Homo sapiens: one gene and its partners. The protein of the gene in region 2 interacts with the protein of the main gene of each other region in a pairwise test. Each region holds a gene or a part of one and is shown on either strand. Other genes may lie near its edges.

The links.
Region 1: the proteins of FXYD6 (region 2) and TMEM154 interact in binary tests that used the Homo sapiens proteins (3 or more experiments, as listed by UniProt).
Region 3: the proteins of FXYD6 (region 2) and FPR2 interact in binary tests that used the Homo sapiens proteins (3 or more experiments, as listed by UniProt).
Region 4: the proteins of FXYD6 (region 2) and TM4SF18 interact in binary tests that used the Homo sapiens proteins (3 or more experiments, as listed by UniProt).

What each region holds. Positions count from the first base shown.
Region 1 is NC_000004.12:152,676,794-152,684,685, reverse strand, and holds the start of TMEM154 (transmembrane protein 154 precursor), read left to right. Parts: upstream 1-4,688; 5' UTR 4,689-4,752; coding exon 4,753-4,816; intron 4,817-7,892.
Region 2 is NC_000011.10:117,838,518-117,845,750, reverse strand, and holds part of FXYD6 (FXYD domain-containing ion transport regulator 6 precursor), read left to right. Parts: intron 1-1,544; exon of another isoform or gene 1,545-1,641; intron 1,642-2,969; 5' UTR 2,970-2,974; coding exon 2,975-3,032; intron 3,033-3,722; coding exon 3,723-3,761; intron 3,762-3,885; coding exon 3,886-3,960; intron 3,961-4,566; coding exon 4,567-4,603; intron 4,604-5,382; coding exon 5,383-5,432; intron 5,433-5,920; coding exon 5,921-5,949; coding exon of another isoform or gene 5,950-5,970; intron 5,971-7,233. Other genes in the region: FXYD6-FXYD2 read-through protein isoform 1 precursor, read left to right, coding at 2,975-3,032, 3,723-3,761, 3,886-3,960, 4,567-4,603, 5,921-5,970. UniProt on the Homo sapiens protein: Associates with and regulates the activity of the sodium/potassium-transporting ATPase (NKA) which catalyzes the hydrolysis of ATP coupled with the exchange of Na(+) and K(+) ions across the plasma membrane.
Region 3 is NC_000019.10:51,756,842-51,764,198, forward strand, and holds the start of FPR2 (N-formyl peptide receptor 2), read left to right. Parts: upstream 1-4,338; 5' UTR 4,339-4,389; intron 4,390-6,520; exon of another isoform or gene 6,521-6,676; intron 6,677-7,357. UniProt on the Homo sapiens protein: Low affinity receptor for N-formyl-methionyl peptides, which are powerful neutrophil chemotactic factors. Binding of FMLP to the receptor causes activation of neutrophils.
Region 4 is NC_000003.12:149,330,553-149,337,687, forward strand, and holds the start of TM4SF18 (transmembrane 4 L6 family member 18), read right to left. Parts: upstream 3,085-7,135; 5' UTR 2,961-3,084; exon of another isoform or gene 2,952-2,960; intron 2,887-2,951; exon of another isoform or gene 2,848-2,886; 5' UTR 2,831-2,847; coding exon 2,654-2,830; intron 1-2,653.

The DNA of each region.
Region 1 (7,892 bases), on a different chromosome or scaffold from region 2:
AATTAGGGCTAGACAGATGAGTTACAGTTAGCCAGGAAAAGAAATATTCCTAGAAATGGTAAAGACACCTGGGCTAATAAAAGTTACACAACCAAGCTTCAACTTTTAGTTCCAGGCCTCCTGGCAGTCAAGGCAAAACAGGAAAATACAACGTGCTTTTTATTTCTTACCTTTGGAGAAAAGGGACCTTTCTAGGAACTAGCAATAATTTCCAGGAACTAACTAACACATGATTCTCGAGTTTTATCTATCATGCATAAAAATCCCCTCAAACATTACAAATACAGAGTTATGGACCTCAGCTCTAGGGATTCTGACTCAATAGTTCTGGCATAGGGTCCAGGACTCTGAATTTTAACAAGCTCCCCTGAATAATTCTAACATAGGTGGCCCCCTCCAGTGCACTTAAAAAAATACTGCTGTAAAGGGATTTTCCCCCCATTTACTCACTTCTCTGTTCTCTGTCCTAAATGCTGAGGATAGACTGGAGAGCAAGACAGAGAATGCCATTGCTCTCAGAGGGCAATTAGAGGAGGACTGTGGATGTTCAGCAGTGAGCTGCTGCTCTGTCTCTTAGATACGCCCCAGCACCCTCTAGCCCAGAGCGCTGCACTGTGTCCCACGTGTCAACTGCCACTTTAGCTCCTAATCACAATCCTTTACAGTTTCATGTTGTGGTGACCAGGCCATCTACCTAGGCCCTGGAAGACCCTGTCATGGAAGCCCCTAGGATTATCCAAACCTTGCAACAGTTTCTCTGAAGAGTATTGGCAGCCAGGATGCAGAGACAGAGACCCCCAAGGGTGGAGATAGGCTGGTCAAGATGAGCCCGGCTGTGCAGGCTCCAGCTGCCCCCACTTCACGCGCAGTGAGATGGCTGTCAGCCCCTCTCCTGGCTGTGGCTTCTCTGCACACGCTAAATGTCAGCCTAATCCTTCTGCCCCAGCCTCTGCCCTGCCCGGCTACCTCTCTGGGCATTCCTTCAGAACCTGGGACTTCAATCTGCCTCCTCCCTGCACCTTCCTAGCTGGCTTCAGAGTGATACACAGGCCCCACCTGATGTTACTATTATCTTGTTTGAGGGCCAGCCCACAGCCAACCAAACACCCAGGAACCATCCACTGTCACTAGCAGGCATTTAGACAGAGAAAGAAGCTCCAGAACATTTGTATGTGAGTGTCGATGTGAGAGCGTGTGTGTGTGAGCACGTGTGCACATTTCTGAGTATGTGAGTGTGCCTGTGGGTGTGTGTTGGGAGACTGGATGTACAAATGGACAGTGGCCAAATAATATATGCAAAAACAGAACACTGGCTCCCAGCTTGCAGCAACCAACCCCCAGAAACCAATTCACTATCTTCAGTAGCAAGTCTAGGAAGCCAGCCTGCTAGAAATCAAACTTGTAGGAGGTCAGAGCACCTTCTGACAGATTCCCTCATTTTTATCTCCTCTTCTGATCTAGCAGCAGCAAAATATGCACCTCCTCACCAATCACTAGAACTTGCTGCTGGTTCCCCATGCCAGCAGCCTCCCTTCAGGCCATACCTGAGCCTTCCTTTTGTTTTTTTTCTGAAACGACTCTTGCTCTGTCGCCCAGGCTGGACTGCAATGGTGGGATCTCGGCTCACTGCAACCTCCACCTCTCAGGTACAAGTGATTCTTCTGCCTCAGCCTTCCGAGTAGCTGGGATTACAGGTACCCCGCATCATGCCCGGCTAATTTTTGTATTTTTGTAGAGATGGGGTTTTACTATATTGGCCAGGCTGGTCTTGAACTCCTGACCTCAGGTGATCCGCCCACCTTGTCCTCCCAAAGTGCTGGGATTACAGGTATGAGCCACTGCACCCGGCCCTGAGCCTTCCTTTTATCGACTGTAAAGTTATCTCATTCCTTGGCCTGCCTTTGGGTCTGTGCCAAAATGCAGCGATGGTGGCTGACTCTCTTGCTATGGCAAGCTCTGAATTAATATCCATTGCTTGGTTTCATTTGCTTGTGCTCATTTAGTCTTCATTTATTTCCACCATGTGCATGAATGTGTGTGTGAGAGACAGCTGTGTGTGTATCTGAGTGCATGTGCACATCTGTGTGTATTGGGAATGGCAGGATCGGAGTGTGAAGAGGAACGCGGAGAAGGCTGTCTGCACCCACTGGAAGATCCTATCATTTATCTGGATTTGTTCCCTTGGAGTCCCTCTTCTTTTATGGCCCATGGAGTGGTGGTGGGGAGGGGGCGGGGGGAAGGGAGGGAGGATAGGATGAGAGTCACTTCTGTAGCACAGACAGTTGATTGTAAAAGTCACACTCCTTTGTGTAAAGTAATAAAGAGTCCCTAGACATGGTTCCCAGTGTCCCTTCCTGCCCTTCTGAACATGATGAAGCACCATACTTCTTTCCTGCTTTCAGACAGCCAATGGCAGGCTCCAAAGTGGCATTACCCCTGCCTGTGTGCCACTCACTCTGAGGTTCCCCTGTGCCCCACATCTGGGACTGAGGCCCTGACTTCCTGCCACCAGTGCATCGGGATTTAATCTGAGGCTGGGTGGCTATTTGCCTAAATTAATGGTTGCTAAAATTAAAACAGAGGTAAATAGCCCTTTACCTACCACACAGCCTCCCTGGGATTTTAACTGCAGCAAAGAGATCATTGAGGTGCTACCATTTTCTGATCAATCATGGTAATTTTCTTCCCCCTAAGATCAGCTTAATCATGCTAAGGGTCTTAGAGAGCACAGGGGTCAAAAGAAAATTACATGGTTGGGCAGGATTTCTCTGCAGCTCCAGTTTATTTTGTACCTCACTCTGATTTAGTGTTGCACTGCTCAGAAGCAATGCATAGTGCACTTGTTGAAACAGTAATGAACTGTTTGGCCATGTCATGGGGCTCAGCAGAGGTCCACAGAATAAGACAGTCTGTGGTCCAATCCACAGACACCTGACTGCAAAAGCTTCCACAGGGAGCTGAAGTTTAAGATGAAAGAAACGAAGGCTGACAACCTTGCCCTTGACAAACATTTGCCTCCAGCCTGGGATTCAACAATGTTTTAATAACATTTAATAATATTTTAATAGGGCATAAATGGTAAAATGGAGAGAACTCCCAAGCCCTGGGCCTGCTTTCTTGCACGTGTGTGTCACAGCTGCAGAAACACGTGCTTGTACAGGAATAATTGCCACCCCAACTCAGTACCAGCAGGTCTTGGAGCCCGTGATCTATTCACATGCTCAGCAAGTGTTTAATTAATAGTTCTTTCTCTGTTGTTTTCAAATCAATCACCCAGTTTTGAGCACGTCTATTTTCTCCTGCTGTTTGTTCTGTATTGTCACCTGTGGTGCAAAAAGCATATTTTATCAAGAATTGACTTAATTGCCAGTTTAAAACATTAAAGTGCATACTGTAAATCCATTAACAAACTGATCCTTACATGAATCACCAACCTATTTCTTGTGAATAATAACTGAGATAAACAGTGACTAATGACATTGAAAAGCAGCAATGCATTAAAGAAAAATTAACAGCTATGTCAGGGGCTAAGGAATTCCAGTCACCTCATACGTTTGCACCAACCAGATCACTGAAGACAAACGACGGGAAGTCATGACTCAGATGGTGATCTGCAGGGAAAGGTTTAGAGATGAGATGTGTCTGATGCCTCAACACTACCCCTCTCTCCATCTGTCTGTCTCTCTTGGCACCACGATTATGAAACTGCATTCTGAATGCTTAGGCCCTAAACCTAAACCAAGGGAAGGACCTCCAATAGAACACCCAACACACACTAATCTCCACTGTATACTAGACACAACCTTTCTGTATTGTTTCGATTGGATAGGATTTCTACCATTATTCTATTTCGTTTCTGTCCTGTTTTGTTTGTTGTCTGAGAACTTGATTGTCAAGTAAGAAGGAAGGAAGGTGAGATGCAGATTCACCCCTACCTCCACCCTCAGAGCATATTCTCCTTTGGAAATGGACCTTGAAAAGATCATTTCTCTCTGGGGAAGCAGAACATAACCTTAAGGTGTGGGTGTGGCATCCACCTCCATCTGGCGTGGGCCTTGGTGGGAGGAGGGCATTCCAGAGTGGAGAAAGGAGAATGGACCTGGCGGAGAGAAGTGGTCTGGCAGTTTTCTGATGATGCAGTTGTCCCTGCTGTCTGGGCCTGCGCTATCCAACACAGCAGCCACTAGCCACTTGGAGTTATTAAAATTTTATAAAAATTCAATAAAATTTAAATTCCATCAGCACTAGCCTCAGTTCAAATGCTCAGTGGCCAATGTGGCTGATACTGTATCAGACGGCGCAGACTTGGAACATTTCCATCAGGGCAGAAAGTTCTACAGGACAGCTTCTTCCTAGGGTCTAGGCAGCCCCGGAGCCTCACCTGGGGGATAAGCAAAATCACAGAGTGAGAATGCGTGTGGTCCAGGACCCCTCCCAGTCCCAGATACCGAACGACATCTGAGCAAGGGACTCTGTTGCCCCGGGGACGGTTTCAAAAGCTGGAGGCCGGGACTCCAAAGGGCTGGAGAGGCGTGATAATAGAACCAGTGCTTCAACAGCAACTTCTCTTTTGCAATCCTTGCTGGTCTGACAGGCTCCTGCAGAATTACATCACTTCCTAAAAAACAGGCACACACCTCTCCTTCAAGTCAGCACCGACCCAAACAAGCAGGAAACAGGAAATGTTCACGTTTCAGAGAGGCTGCAGCCCGGCGCAGCATCCTGAGCGCGCCTCTGCCGAGGCGAGCGGACATGCAGGCTCCCCGCGCAGCCCTAGTCTTCGCCCTGGTGATCGCGCTCGTTCCCGTCGGCCGGGGTAAGCCGCCTCCACTTCCTACTCCTGGGAAGGAGGATCGCAAAAGCTGGTAGGGTGCCCGAGGCTACAGAACTCTGCCGGGGAGGGTGACACCCAGAAAATCTAATCCTTTCTGTGAAAGAAGTGGAGAAAATTAGAACTCCTTTTTTTGGGGGGTGGGATGGAGAGGGGACTTCGCTTTCGCTGCAGCTGTCTAAACTGGCTACAGCTCTCACTTCATTTAACCCTCTTTCAGTCTTTGTCTTCCAGGAAGTGTGCGTCCCTGTAATTTACCAGCTTTAATGGGCATATTAAGAAAACCATAAACTTTTTGGCAGTTTATGTAAAAAAAAACAAAAGCTTCAATTGGCTGAAACAGAGACATGATTAATTTGCTTTTTATGGTGTGGGCTGAGAAGTCTGCTGATTCCAAAATCTCCTGGAAAAACTGGGGTGTGAAAATTTACTACTAGAAAGCATACTAAAGAAACGACATAAACTTAAAAAAAAAAAAAGGAAACGGGAAATTATCCGAAGAGCTACCAAAGAGCTATGTGTTAGAGGGTAGCCCTCTAACACATCAAGTAAGGTCTTTCATCTACTTTTATTGCACCTTGTTACTTTTACAGATTTTTTTTTTGCATTGATTGTTACTAATGAAGATTTGTTTGAAAAAGTAATATGATTGGAACCAATCAAAGGTATTGGAAAAAACAATATTGAATCTCATTATTATGGGCTAAAAGCAACAACTGATTTACACCCTTGCCAGTTGCTACAACAAGCACAAGCACCTTCAGCTGCCTCTCTTGTTGACTTGCCTTTGGGCAAATACACTGGCTGCCCATTGTTTCTGTCAATGAACACCGACTGCTTCTAGTGTAGGGCAGTATTTACCAAGCAAAAGGAAAGTTCTCAAGCTACAGTTCTTTAGATAGAATGAGGGACATCAGCCCCAACCTAACAGATGTGACAACTTCCTGGAGGTCAGCAGCCAGCACCCAGCCACCCCACTCCATCAATTTCTCTTCCCCTGGGTGTTCTCCATGTGGTCCCCCAGGCATCTGAGGTAGAAAACAAAGTGGAAGGCAAATCATTCCAGCTGAAAAGATGTCTGGTTAAATTGAGTTTAGTGTTCAGAGTGGGTTTGGAAGTTGATGTGTTGTTTTATGCCCAGTGTTTTGGAGCTGGAAGGGAACTTGAAGATGATGCAGCTCAAACCATATTGGGCACACAGGTGAAGAAACAGAGGTGGAAGAAGGGAGATGTCTGGGTCTTGCTGCTAGTCAGCTCTTCTGGCTTCTACTCCAGAGTTCTTTGAGCTCCTCCACCCCCCACCACCACTGCCCCCCTCCCCCCACCGCCGCCCCGGAACCAATCACTGTCTCTGCCAAGAGCTCTGGAACCTTTCGTAGTAGGACATCAGGGAAGAAAAGCCTAGCCATCCTCCTTCCACCTCTTCTATTGCACAACACTGCCACAGGTGCCTCAAACACTCCCTTAATACTAATTCATCTTGCCTGAACTTTTTTTTTAGCTTCTAAAAAATGATTGAGTCCTAGTGTCTGCAATTCAGGAGATGCAAAAAGAGAATCTGAAGAGACTTGGTTAAAGTTGCCTTTCTGACACCTGAATCTGATCGTGCACATCTTCCCCCTTAAGGACCCCTCATTTATGCCCCTTCACTTGTTCCTCATTTTTGCCCCTTAGACTCTCACTGCAACCTCCTTCCCAGTGGCACCTCCTTCCAGTTGTCGTCCCCCTCCGTGGCTCTTGCCTATAATGAATACATTCTTTTTCCTACCTAGCAAATTCTTGTATCACCTTAAAAGTATCAAACTAAATGTGATCTCCTCCTTGATGTCTCCTTTCTCTGCCCCTTCCCTGGAGCTCTACTCGTACCTGCTGCTGTGCCCCGATAGACCTAAACTTCTGCTAATCACTTTGAACCATAATTGTGTCCATGCCTCCCAACTGGCTGTGAACAGCTCCAGGGAAAATCCTCTGTAGTTCACCTTTGACTTTCCAAAATCCTGTAAGGGCTCAGCATAAATGAGAAAATAATTGTTGATAAATATGAAAATCATCCCTAGAATGGATATGAGGCTGATTACAAAAAAAACTGATAGCTCCTGAAAACAGGTAGTGTTGGAATGTAAAGAGAAGTCAAAGATGAAAAGTTGCATTTCAGTAGAGTGCAGGGATTACCTAAATAATCCAACATGCTAATTGGGCCCTGCTGGGATTCCCAATGTCTGAAAAATGCCCACTTGCAAAAAGCTGTTGAATAAAAGCTATGACTTTGAGATGATTCATCATGGAAAAGGTGATTTTAAATTAAAGATTTTTAAAATTAATTAATGTACACTACTTTTAGCTAATAGTGCCTAAGGCTTCAGGATATGAGTTACTTTCTAGGTGTCACAGGTATATTTCCTTGAATTCTTCAAAAAATACCTGGGGATGTTTGTTAGATGAATCCAACCTACTGAAGGGCCTGACACTGTTTGTGAGTATACTCTGAGATGTATCTCAAATTAAGCCTTTATTAACAACGAGCAGGCAACATGAGATAATATCTGCAGTTGCATGAGACCAGCACTGTTACCTCTGAGTCAGCGACCTCTTCTCTTTTTAGAGATAGATAGCCTGACATAGAATTGAGTTCTACCCCAAGAGAAATAATTCACTTGGAAGTCACCAGGAGAGAAATAAGAAAGCAGCTTTTCTGGGACTATAATGGAATGGGTGAGCATAGTTAAAGGAAAGCTTGGGCCTAGGTGCCTTGGCCAGTGTAGGATCCTAAGAAAGTTCAAACTCAAGGAGATGTTCTGCTCATGGAGTAAAGTGGGGCAGGGGTGTCCCCGTCTCTGTTCTTTATGCCCTGTCAGTGTCAGCTTAATACTATCAGAAAACCAAAAGCAATTTCCTAAATACCAAAAGCATGGGATTTGTTAGTTGCTAAAAGCAGAATTGTTGCAGAAGGGAGAGCTGAAGGCCATGAGGCAGAAACAAGGATGCTGTGACTGTTTTGGTGGCCAAACAGAGAGGAATGGGAGATTTTCTGGGCTGGTTCAGAAGAATAAGAATTATATAA
Region 2 (7,233 bases):
GATCAAAGAATCAAAAAACTGTTTCCTCAAAATTCTTGCATGTGTGCCCTGAGCAGTATGCACAAAAATGTCCACAACTCTATTTGTAATAGCATAAAATTGAGGGGGAAAAAGAAACAGACATCCATTGGCAGGAGACTAGAGCACTACATGATCATTTACCTGCACAATGGAATATTACACCACACTGAAAATGAATGCACTATAGCTAAATGTAGTAAGTCAGTGAACCACAGAAGCATAATGTCGGACAGAAAAAGCAAGTTTCAAAAGACTATAAACATGATATCATAATTATAAAGTTCAAAAAAGCTACACTAAGCAACATAATATTTAGATATATGTACGTGTTAAATATATTTTTAAGACAAAGAGCAAGGTGAATATCCATACAGTGGAATATTATTCAGCCATAAAGAGAAATAAAATATGCATACATGCTACAAGGTAGATGAACCCTGAAAACATTATGCTAACTTGAAAGCCAGACACAGAAGTCCATGTATTTTATTATTTCATTTATGTGAAATGTCCAGAGTGGGCAAACCCATTGAGACAAAAAGTAGATGAATGGTTTCAGGGTTGAAGGGAAGGGGAGTCGGGGGTGACTGCCGATGGATACAAGTTTCTTCTTGGGAGGATGAAATGTCTTGGAACCCGAGATTGGTGACGAATGCATAAGTTTGTAAATGTTCTAAAAATCACTGAATTGTACAGTTTAAGATGGCAAACTTCCTGATGTGTGAATTGTATATTTTAAATTGTGGAAAGAACACTTACTATGAGATCTACCCTCTTAACATATCTTGAAGTGTGCAATTCAATATTGTTAATTATGCTGTACAGTGTTATACAGCAGATCTCTAGCACTTACTCATTTTGCATAACTGAAATTTTATATCTGTTGATTGGCAGCTTTTTAGAAGAAGAGCAAGGGAATGATTAAAAATATGTATTTTCAGCCAGGCGCGGTGGCTCACGCCTGTAATTCCAGCGCTCTGGGAGGCCGAGGTGGGTGGATCACCTGAGGTCAGAAGTTTGAGCCTGACCAACATGGTGAAACCCTGTCTCTACTAAAAATACAAAAAATTAGCTGGGTGTGGTGGTGCATGCCTGTAATCCAAACTCCTTGGGAGGCAGAAGCAGGAGAATCGTTTGAACCCGGGAGGTGGAAGTTGCAGTGAGCCGAGATCGCACCATTGCATTCTAGCCTGGGCGACACAGGGAGACTCAGTCTCAAAATAAATAAATAAATAAATAAAAATAAAAATATATATTTTTGGGATACTGGCCACCTCTGGGAGAGAGGCAGGGGGATGGGGTGGAGGGAAATAGAGGTCACTGCAGCAGTCTTTGTAAAGCTCCATTTCCTAAGCTGCTGGTTTATGGGTGTTTCTATTATTACTATGCCTCATTATATGTGTATGTTACATATATTTTTATACATATAAGATACAGTGTAGCATTCAAAGGAAATACAAGTGTGAAATGAGACAGCATTGAAAGCAAATTACCACCTTTTGATAAAGGCTTTTTGAATCAAGGTTTGGGCCTTGACGTGGCTGTGGATGCAGTCGTTCTGACCCCTGGTGGCCGAGAGGTGAAGTGCAGTGGCGGCTGCTTGCTCAAGGCCGGAGGAAGGTAGTGACCGTGCTGGGGGCAATCAGGGTCTTGGACTGGACGGATGTCCAGGGGTTCAGGCCACTGCCAGTTTCACCCCACATGGAAAACAGCACCCAGCCTTGGGCTTTCCTGGTTCAGGAAAAGCCTCTCTGTCTCCTCTCTGGCTCTTAACCATGCTCCTTTAAGCCCAGGAGTGAGATGTGTGTCCTGCCATTGAAATCTATCCCTGGGTGCCACCTCTTGGCCCTGCCTCCTGCTTCCACCAGGATAGCCCACCTGGGGCCATCCACCCAGAGACCAGGACTGATGAGCTCCTGAGCAGAGACCTCCGCATCCTCTGGGGAAGCAGAGGCTGGGGTGCTGAGGCTCGTGGAACCAGCCTTCAAACTCCTTTTGTAGAATCAAACCACCTTTCTGGAGGATTCTGAACCAAAGCCTGTGGGAAGAGCTGACTTGGGGACTTTTGAGGTGGGACGTAAAGGGTACCTGAAGGAGGGCTGTCAGCGCTTCAGGGCCCAGGAAACCACAAGTCTCCTCTCCACCCAGCTGGCTAGACTAGAGGGACACTGGTTTACTGGCCCCATTTAGTCTGATATTAAGAGACATTTCTGATGGGGTATTGGCTGTCAGAATGAACTAGGGATGGCCACAGAAGGGTGGCCTGGAGAGAAGGACACAGTTGAGATCTTCAAAGTCACGTCCCAGAGGCAACGTGGTGGAGGAGTTACCATGCTGGGTTAGGATCTAGGCCCTGCTACTCACTCTGGTGCATGTCAGCCTCATTAAGCTTCAGGTTCTCGGCCTGCGTTAGTTGTAGTGCTTGCTAATTGTACTAACTCAATTGTGCCAATTGAATTAATACATGCAGAGCATTCTCTAAGAGTCCAAGAAATGTCAACTGGTGGTGGCTCACGCCTATAATCCCAGCCCTTTGGGAGGCTGAGGCAGATGGACCACTTGAGGTCAAGAGTTCGAGACCAGCCTGGCCAACATGATGAAACCCTGTCTCTACTAAAAATACAAAAAATTAGCCGGGCATGATGGCACACGCCTCTAATGCCAGCTACTCAGGAGGCTGAGGCAGAAGAATCACTTGAACCTGGGAGGCGGAGGTTGCAGTGAGCCGAGATCATGCCACTACGCTCTAGCCTGGGCAAGATAGCGAGACTCTGTCTCAAAAAAAAAAAAAGTCAACTGCTTGTGCTTAGGTTGTTTGAACCCTCACCAAGTCATGAGTGCAGAGCAAAGCTGGGGATTTGGCTTGGCCCCTGGTCAGGCTGACGCTTGGAGCTGACGGATGGAGGCTTCTTAGCCAGAGAATCATTTTTTCCTCCCTCTGTCCCCAGACGCCATGGAGTTGGTGCTGGTCTTCCTCTGCAGCCTGCTGGCCCCCATGGTCCTGGCCAGTGGTAAGTACCCCTCTGGGACCTGGCTGTGACAAGATGACAACCCTGTCCAGCCCTCTCTGCTGGAAGGTTCTGGGCCCCTTGGGACATTAGGGCTGGGGGACTCTCACGTTCTTCATGTCTAGTCAGGGGCCTCTCCCTTCAGTCAGCAGAGAAAGTCGTGGAGGTGGCAGCTATTTATTCACAGACCTCAGCACAGCCTGCCCCCTCGCCCCCTAAGGGTCCGGCAGGGAGTAGTTTTTAAGCCCCGCAAGCTCACTGCGCCTCTGTGGATTTGTGGCCTGAACCCTGGGATTCAGACCTGCACATCAGTCTCTAGACCATATTAGCAAGTGCTGGCCTCGTGCAAGTCATATGTCCTTCCTTGGTCTCGGTTTCTCCGTGTGTCACAAGAGGAAAACTGACCCTGCCTTCTGGGGATGATGTAAGAATACAAAGGGGCAATGAATGTGGGTGTTGCATGACTCAGAGCCTCACTGAGTTTCGATGCCTTCACTGACCTCGGCCCTTAGGGTTCCCCTAACCCCCTAACTGGCAGGCCCGCCCTACCGTGCACCTCTAGGCATCTCTGTTTAATGGGCCCTGCTCCTCTGGAATTCCTTTGTGGAGACTGAGGTCTGTGAGGCAAGGTTAGATATTTGGGAACCAGTTTGTGTAGCTTTCTTTCTCTTGACCAACTGTTTGTTTTTGCAGCAGCTGAAAAGGAGAAGGAAATGGACCCTTTTCATTATGGTGAGCGATGGCAACCCTGGGTGCAGGGGTCAGGGGGAATGCAGCCCTGCCTGGCAGGAGGGGTAGGGGGAACAGACACCCTCTCCCTGGCCCCTTCCTCTCTCACCCTTGGTTCCTTTGGCAGATTACCAGACCCTGAGGATTGGGGGACTGGTGTTCGCTGTGGTCCTCTTCTCGGTTGGGATCCTCCTTATCCTAAGTAAGTTTGTTCTTTTGCTCACTCTGTTAAGAGCAATGACTGAGGCTGCTAAGCAGGTGGGGACAGTGTGAGAGCCTGGTTGGTCCCTCTCCTGGAGAGGAAAGGAGGCTGCCTGCCCTCCGTGTTATCTTCACGACCCAGTAGAGTGCTGGGCACATAGTAAGTGCTCAGTAAAACAGTGACACGGGAACAAAGAAAATGTCATATGACAATGAGCATAGATAGGAACGAGCAGGGTGGCTTCCCAGTGCTGTGTCTATAGGGCATGAATGGGGCAGTCACGGAGGAAGGAGACAGGTGCTGCCCTAGTGTGCGAGGGATGTGCCTCCGAGTTTGTTGTTCCCACATGAGCCTGATCTGCACAGATCCCTCTTTACTCACATGATCAAGAGGGCTGTGGGGGTGTAGCCATTCCAGCTATAGAATGTATTTCCTTTGCCCCAGAAGAAGCTACCCCATCCGAGGGCCACTGTGTGCAGCTGTGCAAACTGTGCACTGCCCAGGTCTAGGGGGTGCCATTTACATAGTCCCACAACCTGCACAGACCCTTGGCCCTGCTGTGGCCAAGCCAGCAGCATGACCTTGGATGGTTTCTTTGCTTTTCAGGTCGCAGGTGCAAGTGCAGTTTCAATCAGAAGCCCCGGTAAGGATGCCGTGGCAGTGGCCTTGGGGGGGTGATACTAGGTGGGACAGGAAGGGACCCCTGGTGTGTGACCCCCAAATGGGCATTCTCTTGGATTCTTGTCTCGGAGGCAGAACGTGTGTGTTGGGACGTAGGGCTGGAAGTTTGAGGACTGCCAGGTAGACTCTGGGGCAAAGGAGAGGTCAAAACATTGAAGGTCAGCCCATCCTGTCTCTTCTGATCTATGTGGGGGACGGGGAGTGGACAAGAAAGTACTGGAACCTTTTCTGGAGGCCCTTGGGACAGTTGAGCTTGGGAGAAGGGAAGCAGAGGGCTTCCTGGCCTCTCTAGATGCCCAGGTCCTCTCTACAGGACCTGCGACACAGTCCCCACTTGTCACCTGTTCATGAGGCTCTTTGAGCTGAATAGACACTTGGACCTTCTTTCTACTCCCACATAGAGGTCATACCCCATTAGTTTACTATAATAGCCAAGGGTAGCTTGGACCCCAGAAGTCCAAAGCGTGTGGCAGGACACACCCAAGCCCCCATGTGGCCCTAGCCTCCCCTTCCCATGAGGGCTGACATTGAAGGGTGCCTGTAAGTTCCCTCTGAGTCTGACCCTTCAGTCCAGACCTTTCCCTCTGTCCCATGCATCCCACAGCAGAGTGAGCTCCAGCCCCTCAGGGCACTGGGAGGAGCCTGACTGCAGGCAGCTGTGCCCCAGTGAGGAGCAGAACGATGCTCTCTGGGTCTGCCCTGGAGATCTCTGATGGGGCTGTGTGTCTCTTTCTCCTGCAGGGCCCCAGGAGATGAGGAAGCCCAGGTGGAGAACCTCATCACCGCCAATGGTAACTGTCCGTGACCACCTGCCCAGGTGGAAAAGAGGGAACAGAGAGACCCCTCTGTGGCTCAGGAAGGGACTGTTGCCAGGTGCATGGCCAGCCAGACATGCTCCCGCAGTGCCAGGAGAGTGGGTCTCCAGGGCCTCTGCAGCATTGCCCCCTCACTCCACCAAACAGGCTACTACTAGTGTCACCTGCTATTTACAGAGCATCTGCTTGTGCCAGGCACAGACCCCATATCATTTAATGGGCACACAGCCCTGAAATAGGCATCATTGTCCCCATTTTGTAACCGAGGGACTGAGAGAGGTTACCAGGTTCCTGTAAGCAGCAAGTAGCAGGGCCAGGATTGAACCCAGATCGTTCTGACTCGAAATCCCATGCCCGTCACCTCTTTGCTCCCCCAGAGTCAGGCAGAGACACGGCTGCTGTTGGGGGTGGCCCACGGGGGTGAGGAGTCTATACACTATAATCCATTCTGGTTTTCTTTCCAGCAACAGAGCCCCAGAAAGCAGAGAACTGAAGTGCAGCCATCAGGTGGAAGGTGAGATGCTCAGTGCCTGGATTGGCCCCTGTTGCCATCACCGTCTGCATCAGGGCCTGGACAGGGGTTCAGGCGGGAAGGATGGGGCTAGCTTTTGCAGTGGGCACAGCTTTTATTATGGGCCCTGCCCTGAGGAGCCTTCAGGAGTCTGAAAGGGGCTGTGAGAGAGACCAGGACTAGAAACACCCGAAGTGTCCCACACACATGCATGCCAACACCAGGAAATGGGGCTTCCACACAGCCCACTGGCCGAGTGCATAGGGCGTCATCCCAAGTGCAACATGGGAGAATTAGAGTTAGTGAAATGCTCCTAATCTCAAAGTAGCATAAAGATAATGGCTTTCCGTGGTGACTCAGAAAGTACTTTAGGGCCACTTGTTTTTTTAAACACCTTATTATGAAACTTCCCAACCCTAACCAAAAGTAGAGCAAATAGTATATGATCCTTCCCTCTCCACATTTAAGGGCACTGATTTTAGTATCTATTTCCATTGTTCATCGTAGGGGGCACAGGAGAGTAGTAACTGGCAAATGCTGTACAGTTTTCAGAGTGCCACCACACACACAGACTCACTCGAGTCTGCCAGAAAAAGAGGATGGGACAGGTGGGGTTTAGCCCATTTTATAGGTGAAACCAAGATGAGAGGGAATAGCCCCGTGGAGAGTGACAGCCCGGACTGTGAACTCAGGCCTTTGCGGCTGTGGTTCAGCGCCACTGCTCCCCTCTGTCCTGTGCGTCTCGCTTTATGACATGCCCTGGAATATCCTAAGGGAAAAGGTTTGTGTTTTGTCAGCTCACTTCTGCCTTTTTTTCCCCCCATACAAGTAAGGCATTATAGAAAGGTATATAAGTTTATCTCACATTGTAAGGTAAAAGAGGTTTCTGGATGATGAAGTGCCCGATGCACCAGCTTTGACTGTGCGTAACAATATCGTGTGCCTGTGTAGCATTTAAATTCTTTCCTAAGTGCTTTTGCATCCTCATAGCGGCCCGTGATGGGCAGAGCAGGGCTCATTACTCCCGTCTTCTGGATGGGGCTCTCGAAGGCAAGTGATCACCTAAGTGCGAATGGACGAAGATTCCGATCTAGGAGGCAGGTGCCCTTCCTGGTAGCTTGGTGTTCTGTCTATTTCATCACAGACTGAGAATCTGGGAAGGCTCAGAGGAGGCAGCCTGGAAATGAAATGTCTTTTCATTTTTTTTTTCCCAAACTAGTTCTTTCTCAGAAACCTTTTATCCTAAGGCTCAGGACTGTGAGCAAC
Region 3 (7,357 bases), on a different chromosome or scaffold from region 2:
GAATTATGAATGTGGGCTTCATAAAGACCCTTCATGCTTCCTCATTCTCCAGAGCCATTTGGTCTCCAAGCTCAGTCTACCAAGCCTGGAAATCTCTCCCTAAACTACACCTCCTCTCTAGCACACTACTCCAGCACAGGCAATTATTCGACAAGTTCACCTTGATCTCTGGCAACTTCTTACCCTTTAAGATCTCTGCCTCCAACTGGGAGCATTCTCAGAGCCATCCCTTTGCAGGGGGACTCTAGAGCAATGTTTTCTGGAAGCACACACCTGACAAGTCACTCTCCTGCTTAAATAGCTTTTAAGCAGAAGAAATTGTAAGAAAGAAATTTTTTTTTAGACCAATATCCTTGATGAACATTGCTGCAAAAATCCTCAATAAAATACTGACAAACCAAATCCAGCAGCACATCAAAAAGCTTATCCACCACGACCAAGTGGGCTTCATCCCTGGGATGCAAGGCTGGTTCAATATACGCAAATCAATAAATGTAATCCAGCATATAAACAGAACCAAAGACAAAAACCACATGATTATCTCAATAGATGCAGAAAAGGCCTTTGACAAAATTCAACAACCCTTCATGCTAAAAACTCTCAATAAATTGGGTATTGATGGGACGTATCTCAAAATAATAAGAGCTATCTATGACAAACCCACAGCCAATATCATACTGAATGGGCAAAAACTAGAAGCATTCCCTTTGAAAACTGGCACAAGACAGGGATGTCCTCTCTCACCACTCCTATTCAACATAGTGTTAGAAGTTCTGGCCAGGGCAATTAGGCAGGAGAAGGAAATAAAGGGTATTCAATTAGGAAAAGAGGAAGTCAAATTGTCCCTGTCTGCAGATGACATGATGGTATATCTAGAAAACCCCATTGTCTCAGCCCAAAATCTCCTTAAGCTGATAAGCAACTTCAGCAAAGTCTCAGGATACAAAATCAATGTACAAAAATCACAAGCATTCTTATACACCAATAACAGACAAACAGAGAGCCAAATCATGAGTGAACTCTCATTCACAATTGCTTCAAAGAGAATAAAATACTTAGGAATCCAACTTACAAGGGACGTGAAGGACCTCTTCAAGGAGAACTACAAACCACTGCTCAATGAAATAAAAGAGGACACAAACAAATGGAAGAACATTCCATGCTCATGGGTAGGAAGAATCAATATCGTGAAAATGGCCATACTGCCCAAGGTAATTTACAGATTCACTGCCATCCCCATCAAGCTACCAATGACTTTCTTCACAGAATTGGAAAAAACTACTTTAAAGTTCATATGGAACCAAAAAAGAGCCCGCATTGCCAAGTCAATCCTAAGCCAAAAGAACAAAGCTGGAGGCATCACGCTACCTGACTTCAAACTATACTACAAGGCTACAGTAACCAAAACAGCATGGTACTGGTACCAAAACAGAGATATAGATCAATGGAACAGAACAGAGCCCTCAGAAATAACGCCGCATATCTACAACTATCTGATCTTTGACAAACCTGAGAAAAACAAGCAATGGGGAAAGGATTCCCTATTTAATAAATGGTGCTGGGAAAACTGGCTAGCCATATGTAGAAAGCTGAAACTGGATCCCTTCCTTACACCTTATACAAAAATTAATTCAAGATGGATTAAAGACTTAAATGTTAGACCTAAAACCATAAAAACCCTAGAAGAAAACCTAGGCATTACCATTCAGGACATAGGCATGGGCAAGGACTTCATGTCTAAAACACCAAAAGCAATGGCAACAAAAGCCAAAATTGACAAATGGGATCTAATTAAACTAAAGAGCTTCTGCACAGCAAAAGAAACTACCATCAGAGTGAACAGGCAACCTACAAAATGGGAAAAAGTTTTCACAACCTACTCATCTGACAAACGGCTAATATCCAGAATCTACAATGAACTCAAACAAATTTACAAGAAAAAAACAAAAAACTCTATCAAAAAGTGGGCAAAGGATATGAACAGACACTTCTCAAAAGAAGACATTTATGCAGCCAAAAGACACATGAAAAAATGCTCATCATCACTGGCCATCAGAGAAATGCAAATCAAAACCACAATGAGATACCATCTCACACCAGTTAGAATGGCAATCATTAAAAAGTCAGGAAAAAACAGGTGCTGGAAAGGGGAGAAATAGGAACACTTTTACACTGTTGGTGGGACTGTAAACTAGTTCAACCATTGTGGAAGTCAGTGTGGTGATTCCTCAGGGATCTAGAACTAGAAATACCATTTGACCCAGCCATCCCATTACTGGGTATATACCCAAAGGACTATAAATCATGCTGCTGTAAAGACACATGCACACGTATGTTTATTGCAGCACTATTCACAATAGCAAAGACTTGGAACCAACCCAAATGTCCAACAATGATAGACTGGATTAAGAAAATGTGGCACATATACACCATGGAATACTATGCAGCCATAAAAAATGATGAGTTCATGTCCTTTGTAGGGACATGGATGAAATTGGAAATCATCATTCTCAGTAAACTATCACAAGGACAAAAAACCAAACACCGCATGTTCTCACTCATAGATGGGAATTGAACAATGAGGAAACATGGACACAGGAAGGGGAACATCACACTCTGGGGACTGTTGTGGGGTGGGGGGAGGGGGGAGGGATAGCATTGGGAGATATACCTAATGCTAAATGACGAGTTAATGGGTGCAGCACACCAGCATGGCACATGTATACATATGTAACTAACCTGCACATTGTGCACATGTACCCTAAAACTTAAAGTATAATAATAAAAATATATATATATATAAGAAAGAAATTTTAAGAAGAAATTCTAAGTTCTTTTTACAGCATTCAAGACCAACCAAGAAATTGCCTCTGCCGCCCTCTACATACTTAATGCTTATTGCTGTCTGCCTTATCATCTATGCTCTGGTAAACAAAAGTAACCTGCTTTTTTGTGACCCCTTTCGTGGGTATTTTTACTCCCCTCTGACAAGAATGCATTATTTTTTCTCCTTTATCTGAGTCTTTAAGACTCAGCCTACATGTTCCCTCCTCCGGATATTGACTCTAGATCCGTGAATCTGAGTTAGTGGTTCCTTTTAGAGGACCTCACAAGGAGCCAGGCATCTGTCTATCACTACGTGCCCCCACCCTATTGTAACTAAGCACTGCATTCTCACCTCTCTATTCAGGTGGTCCGCAGAGCCCATGTCTGATTGATCTCTATGTCTCCAGCAGCCAGCAAGGAAGCACCTCTTTAGAGACCTGCACCTATACAATACCTACCACCTTTTATTTCTCGATATGTGAACTCCATTGAGAACAAACGAGTAAATGTAGGTAATGTGCCTTCTTCTTTTCTTTTCTTTTCTTTTTTTTTTTAGATGGAGTCTCGCTCTGTTGCCCAGGCTGGAGTTTAGTGGCACAATCTCGGCTCACTGTAACCTCCGCCTCCCAGGTTCAAGCGATTCTGCCGCCTCAGCCTACCAAGTAGTTGGGATTACAGGTGCCCACCACCACGCCCAGCTAATTTTTTTTGTATTTTTAGTAGAGGTGGGGTTTCATGATGTTGGCTAGGATGGTTTTCAACTCCTGACCTCAAGTGATCCACCCACCTCGGCCTCCCAAAGTGCTAGGATTACAGGTGTGAGCCACAGCGCCCAGCCAGTAATGTGCCTTCTTAAGTTCTGTGAGCCATTCTAACAAATTATCAGAACAGAGGAAGGGGTTATAAACATCCCCCCACCCCCGATTTATAGCCAGTCAGTCAGAAGTACAGGTGGCCACCTGGGACTTGGATTGGTGTCTGAAGTGAGGACAGTTTTGGGAGAGTGAGCCCTTTAACTTGTGGGATCTGACACTAACTCCAGGTAGACAGCGTCGGAGCTGAATTGAATTGTGAGATACCCAGTGGTGTCCCCAGAGAACTGGAGAATTGCTTGATATGGAAAAGACCCACACATTTGATGCCAGAAGTACTGCATAAGTCGAGAATTGAGTTTGACTTAATCATCATATTTGGGCTTGATTGCGTGGCTGAAACTCTTCCCACTTCAGTAATTGTTTCTTTCATTTTCATGAAACTCTGAAGAAGGAAGGGCTGGACATTCAGATTCCTTGACCCTTGACATTTGGAAGCATGAACTCCAGTCTCTCACAGAAGGCTAGAGGTGAAGGAACATTCAGACACATTGGTTTCTAAGAAGAGTCCGCTGACAACATACCCAAGGTGTCTTCTGAAAATTATAAGAAATCCTGAGTTTCTGTTAGGGGATTGGCTCCAGCTCCATTGTCCCTCCCCCATCATTCAGTAGTCTCCGCGAAAGCCCTTAGAGCCGGTGTTGCTCCACAGGAAGCCAAGAAGCACACAGGAAAAGGAGCTTAGCTGCTGGTAAGTTGGGGACTGACAATTTAAAATTTATCAATGGAACTCCTGCTCTCTGACAAACACCTCCTAAATTCTAGAGCAGTGCTGTAATGGAGCATCCACTTGCCACAGGTGGCTTTTGAGTGCCTATGTTTCTATCTTGATCTGAAATGTGCTTAAGTGTAAAATATACTTAGTGTAGTTTAATCATTAGTATGATCAAAATAATACAATTTATCTCGTTAATAACTTTCATTTTGGTAACGTGTTCCAATGATTTTTTTTATTTGCGGGGTTAAATGAAACATATTATTATAATTAATTTCTCCCAATGATTTTACTTTTTTAACATGGCTACTAGAAAGTTGTAAGTCACGTGTGTGGCTGGCATTTAGGGCTTGCATTACCCTGTCTCTACTAAAAATGCAAACAACAAACTAGCCAGGCGTAGTGGTGGGAGCCTGTAATCCCAGCTACTCAGGAGGCTGAGGCAGGAGAATCGCTTGAACCTAGGAGGCCGAGGTTGCAGTGAGCCGATATCGTGCCATTGCACTCCAGCCTGGGCAAGAAGAGTGAAACTCTAACTCAAAGATAAATAAACATGTGAAGGAGCCAAGTGTGAGGAGCTTAAGAGGAAGAGCATGGTAGGCAGAAGGAACAGAGAAGGCAGAAGCCCCGAGATGACAATGAGCTGCATGTTCAAGGAATCAGAGCCCGTTATGGGTGGAGCCCAGTGTGTCCCACGAGAGTGCAGAGATGAGGTCTGAGGAATGCACAGGGCAGGTCCAGGGGTACTTGAGGGAACTTAAGATAAGGATAAGTTAGAAGTTTGGAAGCCATTAGAAGGTGTTGAAAATAGCATCACCATTTTATTGGACCTTTTTTTTTTTTTTTTTTGAGACAGAATCTTGCTCTGTCGCCCAGGCTGAAGTGCAGTGGCGCAGTCTCGGCTCACTGCAAACTCTGCCTCTCAGGGTCAAGCGATTCTCCTGCCTCAGCCTCCCAAGTAGCTGGGATTACAGGCACCCGCCATCACGCCCAGCTAATTTTTGTGTTTTTTTAGTAGAGACGGGGTTTCATCATGTTGGGCAGGTTGGTCTTGAACTCCTGACCTCAGGTGATCCACCCACCTCAGCCTCCCAAAGTGCTGGGATTACAGGCATGAGCCACTCCCGGCCCTTATTGGACTTTTTTTTTTTTTTTGAGACAGAGTTTTGCTCTTGTTGCCCAGGCTGGAGTGCAATGGCACGATCTCAGCTCACTGCAACCTCCGCCTCCCTGGTTCAAGCGATTCTCCTGCGTCAGCCTCCCGAGCATCTGGAATTACAGGCACGTGCCACCACGCCCAGCTAATTTTGTATTTTTAGTAGAGATGGGGTTTCTTCATGTTGGCCAGGTTGGTCTCGAACTCCTGACCTCTGGTGACCCACCTGCCTCGGCCTCCCAAAGTGCTGGGATTACAGGTGTGAGCCACTGCACCTGGCCCTTATTGAACTTTTTAAAAGCTCATTTGGTTTCCTTCTGGAGATTGGATTGTAGGGCAGGGGAAAGTAGGACCAGGAACAACCTATTTGCAAAGTTGGCGCAAACATTCCTGCCTGACAGGACCATGGACACAGGTTGTAGAGATAGAGATGGCTCTGGCTGTGCATTCAGCAGATTCTGTAGATAGAATTAATAGGACTTGGATGGGATTGTGGTGAGAGAAAGTGAAATGAAAGATAAGTTCTAGTTTGGAAGTTTTAACAACTGAATGTTTAAACTCAAATAGACACAAAATATTGGAAGAGTGGCAGGTTTGGGAGGATGAGACAATCAACTGTTTGGTTGAGCCACGTTAGGTTTGAAATGTCTACGGGACTCCCGTGGGGAGAGGTTATATCAGACTGGAGCACCAGAGAGAGGCCAAGGCTGATAGTTTAGATGAAAAGAGAGCATGATATTTTAAGCCCTGAGACTGGATAATATCACCTATAGAAAGACTATATAGAGATAAGAGAGGTGGGGAACAAGTAAAAGCTGCGGGACACTCCTAAATTTAGAGTCAAATTTAGAGCAGAAAATACTAGCAAAGGGGACTGAAAAGCGGTGGCCAATTGAGCTTCAAATGCAAGTGAAAGTGTGTTGTGTGTACATTTATCATCTCATGGCACAGGAAAAACGTGATTTAAGGAGAAGGAAGCGATCCAATGGGAAGAAGAGATCCAATGGATCCTCTATCACGAAGATATTGAGATAAGAACCAATATGGATTTGCACCCACTGCATTTGCAGCCTTGAGGTCATAAGCATCCTCAGGAAAATGCACCAGGTCAGTGCTAAGGACTGGAGTCAATACAGACTGGATTCAGGAGAAAAAGTGAGGCAGGGAATCAAAGGGAGCAAACACAGAAAACTCCTTCCAAAATCTGGCTGCAAATTCTTTTCATAGAAAGAATTCTCTCAGGAGAAATAGGGTTAACACCAGAAAGGAATATAGTCCAAGATCTTTTTGGTTGTTTTTTGTTTTGTTTTTTGGGGTGGTTTTTATTTTGTTTTTGTTTAGTTTTGTTGTTGTTTGTTTGTTTGTTTTTGAGACGGAGTCACTGTTGCCCAGGCTGGAGTGCAGTGGTGCGATCTCAGCTCACTGCAACCTCCGCCTTCCGGTGTTCAAGAGGTCTTCCTGCCTCAGCTTCCCAAGTAGCTGGGATTGCAAGCGCGTGCCATCACGTCCAGCTAATTTTTGTATTTTTAGTAGAGATGAGGTTTCACCATGTTGGCCAGTCTGGTCTCAAACTCCTGGCCTCAAGTGATCCACTTGCCTCAGCTTCCCTAAATGTTGGGATTACAGGTGTGAGCCACGGCACCTGGCCAAGGATGGTTTCTTTTTAAAGGGAGGGGATATGATTTATGTAATGTTTATGTAATAGTGAGAATGATCTAGTAGAAATAAAATCTTGAGGGTTTGTTTTTGGCAGAAAATGGAAGGACAAATGCAGGGGGAAAGTTTGTG
Region 4 (7,135 bases), on a different chromosome or scaffold from region 2:
TTCTAGCTGTGTGAATTTGAGACACCTTCTGTATAAAATGGTATCAAGAGATCGTCACGAGGTAATATATGTGACATTTTGAGTATAGTGGTTGATTCATAGTGACTGATAAATGTTAGCTATTATTATCATGGTTAGCAACCATCAAAAGCTAATGATTAAGGAGAAGTAAATGGATGGACAGGAGAATACCACCCTGGGCAGCAAAACCTGCCTTTCTCAATGACTCAGTTGTGGAGAACCAAGGAAAATCATTCAGCAGGCTTGGTAGTTTGCCAGCCTCTCTTCATTTACTGTCCTCTGGGAATGGAGGTGAGAGGCTCAGTTAATCTGAAACCATATCTCTTTAAAGTGACTTCAATTTCCCCATGCATTCAAACCATCTCAGGTTTAAATTGTTTCAATGTGTTTTGTCTGTATCAAGCCAACAAAGTGGGAGAATCAATGCATCTTATTTCCTTTTTTTAAATTTTATTTTAGGCAAAAGGCCAGAGCTCTGGAAAGAACATGTATTTCTTTACCATTATAATTTCATTATAATTTCTGGTTAGACTAGATACAGATCATGAATTGCTTATGGGAAATTCTCCACCCATTTTTTTACTCTCACTATTTAGGACTGAATCCCACAGCTGAGTTCACTGTTATTTTACTCTTCGTAGCCAATGTTTCTAGTTTCCAAATTTCTTCAGCTTTCATTAATTTTTTTGTTCATTTAATTATTTACCTATATTCTTCTCCTTTCTCCTAAAAGGATTTGATGCAGTTATAGTAATATATTTTAATAATTCCTGGAAGATGAAAAAAATAGAGAACAGGTTTCTTTTCCTAGTTTTAATTTTTACATGGAATATAAGCAAAAGAGTCCTATATTCCCCTCCTTTCCACATCGTTAGTTATGACAGATTGAAAGAAATTCTGGTCTAATCTTAGTTATGTCTTGCAACTCTTCCATCTATTGCAATTGCATATTGAGGGAAACAATGATGAGACAAGGCCAAAGCATAGTAACCAGCTTCATTACAATATTGATAGAGATAATTTGACCTAGAGCCTGTAGTCTTATTGCTCAGGCATCAACTGTTGAAAGAGACACTGCCTTCTTTTTTTGTTTTAAAATATAACTGCAATACAGAGGAGTCAAGAATAATGGAGGTAAAGTACACATAATTCCACCACCCTCGTGAGTCTTCATGCATTTATTTCTGGTGTTTTCCCACATATGTCTATTTGACACAGCTGCAATAGTAATTTACCCACAATGTTATTGTGTCTCTTTTCACTTAACATGAAATAATGTGCATTTTCCACGTTGTTACATCTTCATAATTATAATTTTCACCACTGTATGAAGTGAATGTACCATAATTTATTTTGCTACTTCTCTGTAAGATGCTTCTTCTAGTTATTTACTATTATACCAATGCAGCCACAAACATCTGCACACATAGCTCTTCCCTTATTTTGGATGATTTCCTCAGAAAAAATGATGAGATGTAGGATTACTGAGTCAAACGACATAAGCATTTTCATGGATCTTGATATATTATACCAAACTCTTCCCGAAAAGACTGACATTTATTTGTAGTGCAGCCAATATTAGTTATGTACTTATTTCATAGCAACATCAATAGCATTGGATATTAATATTTTAAAGTTTATTAATTTAATGTGCAAAATGAATAACTAAATGAAAATTGCTTTACAACACAGCTATTCAAATATAATAATTAAAAACCCCTAAAAGATGTAGAAATAGATTATAATGAATTTTCTTCTACATTATTGGTGGTCTGATTAGCTTACAGTCCATAATGCACTATTTTTAGAAATGACTTGACCAGGAAATTGTCTTTTCCTCTGAGTTGCCAACATGATTTACTCTCAGTTTGTTTATTTTTAAAGAACACAAAGTCATCAGGAAAACGTTCATGGATTCTTGCCATTGATAATTCAATTTACTTTTCAAAAACTCCCTCCATTATTAGGGTCTAATGTAGGACTATTTTAATGATGACACAGCTCATTCTTTAATAATCATAATTACAACAGTCACTGGCTATCTACTACATGTCAGTCTCTCTCCTGGGCACTTTATATATATTTTATCTTTAAAAGTAAATGCCATTATTCACATTTTTCACATTAGAACACTGAGGCTCAAAGATACTGAGTAACTTGCTGAAGGTCTCATGGAACAAATGACAGAGCTTAGATTTACATGCAGGTTTGTCTGAATAGCCAAGTCTCTGCTTTTTTTTCATGCTGTCCTAATGCCCCTTCAAGCTAGAAAAACATGAGTGCAGACAGAAAATCTGTTCTAGAAAACAGTAATGCCACTGAAGATCAAATAGCTTAAATTGATATGCAGGGTTCATGAGAACATACTGTTTTTACAGGCCAGTGTCCCACAGACTTTCATTAGGACTAATTTCCTGCATTACTGAGGCTGCATTGCTGAGCAGCTTATTGAAAACAGAGCTATGTCCCAAATGCCAGCAGATTACCTGCCCCTTCACCCCCATCCCTCTTTCAAATCCTACACCCAAGATTAGCAGAATGATTTTTCCATTATTCATTACTTCTACTAGTTACAAGGTAAGTCTCAATTACAACTCCCCCTTCTCTCCCAAGTCTCCAAATTCATACTTACCATGATGCCTGAGAAACAGATTCCTTCAAAATACCACACGTAGTTGGTGAGTTTATTGCTGGATGCATAGGAAGTTTGCCCATTCGGGAAATACAATAATATGTTCACGATTATACTCCAAAGTGCAAGCGGAATCAGCAAACAACTTAGGCAGCCTCCACACTTCCGAGACCCCATTTTGCCCTGCTTAGAACCTGCGGGAGATTTCAAGAGTATACAGTCACAGAAAGTCTATTTTTCTTCTTCCTACCTGACCTTTTTTTTCTCTCTCTCTCTCTTTTTTTTTTTTTTTTTTGAGATTACCTACCACTTCCAGGGTCAGAGCCCTTCACTTCATATTCATGAGGAGACGGGGAATTGGAATATACCCGCAGCCGACAATCTCAGTGTGAAATACTGGTTTACTGTTTGGAGAACAATAGACAATGATCAACAACTGAAGAGCTGAGCTGGTCTTCATCCTGTGCCAAAGGAATGCGGTGTTTTTCACTGCTTTTTAAAATAAGTAATTTTCCTCTGGATTAAAGCACCGAAGGCTTAACCCTGACCTTGTGTTAAGAAGGAAGTTGGGGTGGGAACTGGAATTGAATGCAGCAAATTTCATCCAACAGTGGAGAGAGGGTTAAAGAGAAAACTACCAAGGAGGCTTATATTTAGAGCTTGATAGGTTTGTTAAAATATCCTGACTTTACCCTTTTTATGTATCTGTCTTTCACCTAGTGTGCTTTTTGTGTGCACACTATTCACCAAGCTTTGTTCAAATTGCAAGGGATAAGAAAGGACTGAGAAAGTGACTGGTGGATGAGAAAAACAAAATATCTTGGTTAGATCAGTACAGCTTTCCTTCCAAGAGTTTGCATCTATTATCTCTACCTCTCTGAAAAATCATAACAGAAATAAAGGCATATTTTTCCTACTATTAAGAAAACAAAGGTAGGGCTGGCGCAATGGCTCAAGCCTGTAATCTCAACACTTTGAGAGGCTGAGGCGGGTGGATCATCTGAGGTCAGGAGTTCAAGACCAGCCTGGCCAACATGGTGAAACCCCATCTGTACTAAAAATACAAAAATTAGCTGGCATAGTGCTGGGCACCTGTAATCCCAGCTACTCTGGAGGCTGAGGAAGGAAAATCACTTGAACCTGGGAGACGGAGGTTGCAGTGAGCCGAGATCGTTCCACTGCACTCCAGCCTGGGTGACAAAGTAAGACTCTGTTTCAAAAAAAAAAAGAAAGAAAGAAAGAAAGAAAGAAAGAAAGAAAGAAACTAGCAGTCCAGGTTCCAAAGAGGTTTCTTGGCACCCCCTTGTGGATATGGTTTTTTTTCCCTCTAGTGCTTTTGATCTAAGTGCATCAAAAAATCTGGGCATTAGACGTTTTTTCCAGTCACATAGAAGCAGCATAAAATCATATTTACTAGAGTTCCTGGGATGATTGGGAAGAGAATAACATTGTTGGTTGAGCATTCATTGAGCATCTCTTATGTGGCAGGCACTGTGCTTGATGTTTTAAAAGGTTCACTCTGGCTGCTGTGTTGTAAATAGGTGGTAAAGGGTGTGGAGGAGATAGAGATGAGTTCTGAAGCCATTTCCACCATCCAGGTAAGAGATAATGATGACTCGGATCATGATGGTAGTAGCAGCAGAGGTGGTAAAAGGAAGCTGGATACCAAACACCGCATATTCTCACTCATAGGTGGGAATTGAACAATGAGATCACATGGACACAGGAAGGGGAACATCACACTCTGGGGACTGTTGTGGGGTGGGGGGAGCGGGGAGGGATAGCATTGGGAGATACACCTAATGCTAGATGACGAGTTAGTGGGTGCAGAGCACCAGCGTGGCGCATGTATACATATGTAACTAACCTGCACAATGTGCACATGTACCCTAAAACTTAAAGTATAATAATAAAAGAAAAAAAAAAGGAAGCTGGATTTGGGATATATTTTGAAGCTTGTGCCAACAGGATTGGTGGCAGATTGGATGTGGGTATAAGAGAAAGAGAGAAGTCAAAGACGACATCATTTGGGCCCGAGAAACTGGGAGAATAAAATTGTCATTAACAGAAATGAGCAAGTCAGCTGAATGAGCAGGGTTGGGAGAAGAGGAATGATATGGTCAGTTTCGAATGTGCTAAGTTTTGAAATACCTTTTAGAAATCCAAGTGGAGATGTCAACTAGGCAGCTGGATATACAAATATGAAGTTCAAGGAAGAGGTCTGGGTGACATATAAATGTGACAGTTGTCAGCATATAAATGGTATTTAAACCCATGAGACACTAAGGAAATGCATGTTGATAGAAAAGAGACCCAAGGACTAAATCCTGGGCAGCCCAGGACTGAGTTTAGGGACATGAGAGGAAGGCAGAAAGGATACTGAGAAATGGCCAGTGAGCCAGAAATGAAGATCAGGAGCTTATTCTCAAAGGTGACTTTCTAAGAAGAAGAAGGCGTGATCAACAAAGTTAAATGCTGCCAAAGGGCACATCATACGAAAGAACTGAGAATCGGCTATTGGGTTGAGCAACGTGGAGGTCACTGGTGGCCTTCATAAGAGGAGCTTTCTTGGTGAGTTAGAGATGAGATGAGAGTCCATCTGCAGTGGATTCATGAGAGAATGGGAGGAGAGAAATTGGAAATAGATGAGGTAACTCTTTTGGAGAGTTTTGCTGTAAAGGAGGGCAGAGAAATGGGGCAGCAGCTAGAGGAAAAGTAGAAGTCAAGGGACAAAAATTAATGGAAAAAATGGTAGCATATTTGTATACTGTTGTGGGAAGGGGTATGAGGGAGGGTAGGTAGGTATTTACCATAAAGGAGATAAAGGAGAGGATTGCTGGCACAGGCTCCTTGAGTAGGTGAGAAAGGGTGGGAGTGTGTGAACAGATGGAGGAGCTTACCTTAGATAGCAGCAGGGCAGGTCAGTGTCAGCAACAGAACAGAAGGAGAACATAGCAATGGGCTTGGAGGTGGTTAGCGGGAACTTCTGATTATTATACTTCTGTTTTCTCAGGGAAACAGGAGGCAATTTTATCAGCTGAGAATGAGGATGGGGAGAGGGTGTTAAAGGTTTAAAGGAAGAGAGGAGAAGTTCAAACAGTTGGCTTGGAAAGTGGGAGAATGAACAGACTAGAGAAATGTGGCAGGTGCTGAGGGACCACTTGAGTCTGTGACCGTGAATGGATAGTGAGACTGGACAGGAGACTTGGGTATTTTTCCTAGTAAGGTTCAGTGGCAGAGGTGTAGCCAGCAAGTAGGAAGAAAGCTGGAGTCAACCAGGATTGGGACTTTGCCAGGCAGATACCATGAAGAGAGGGATGGGCAAAGGATTCAAGAATGTATGCAAGTGAATGGTTATAATGATGGACTGTGGAACTTAAGCTGAGTAAGGAGGGAAGTAAGGACGTGAGGGAGTGTGAGAAATAGTAAAAGAGGCACTGGATTTGTAAATTGTGTGTCCCAGTGTGGCTGAAAAATTACTGGTTTTAGGTAACACACAGAGTGAGCTAGAAAGAGAGGAAGTAGTGATTGAGAAGTGTGATGCTGGAATTTGAGATTTTAGAGATGTTTCAGGAATAGGCGAAGAAAAAGTCTGGAGGTGTGTTATGGGCTGATCATGTCTCTCCTAAATGCACATGTTGAAGTTCTAACCCCCCATAATCTCAAACGTGACTGTATTTGGATAGGGCCTTTAAAGTGATGATGAAGTTAAAATGAGGACAGCATGGTGGGGATAATCCAATCAGATTATAAAAAGAGGGAATTTGGACACACAAAGAGATTCCAGGGGTGCAAAGAGAAAAGACTGTGTGAGGACACAGTGAGAAGTGGCTATCTGCTAGCCAAAGAGAGAAAGGCCCCAGGAGAAACCAATCTGCCAACACAGATTTGGCACATAATTTACAAATCTGCTTTGAGATTTGGCACATAACTTACAAATCTGCTTTGACCTTGGAATTCTGGCCTCCAGAACTGTGAGAAAATAAATGTCTTTTGTTCAAGTCACCCAGTCTGTGGTGTTTTGTTATGTCAGTCCTAGCAGACTGACACAAGTTGTGATCCTAGGAGTGAGTAGTGTAGGGAGGTGGAGGACAAGATGACTGGTGAAAAGGAATGGAAAGGGAAGTGTATTGGAATTATCATTTATAATGAATACTAAAATAAAAAATTAGACAATGTCAGTTTGGGAGAGAATGACTACATTTAGAAAGCCAGGTGCTAGACTCTTCAAGGAATGAAAGAAAATAAGCTTGAGGGAGGATTTAGAACTAGAAATACCATTTGACCCATCCATCCCATTACTGAGTATATGCCCAAAGGATTATAAATCATGCTGCTATAAAGACACATGCACATGTATGTTTATTGTGGCACTATTCACAATAGCAGACTTGGAACCAACCCAAATGCCCATCAATGGTAGACTGGATTAAGAAAATGTGGCACATATACACCATGGAATACTATGCAGCCATAAAAAAG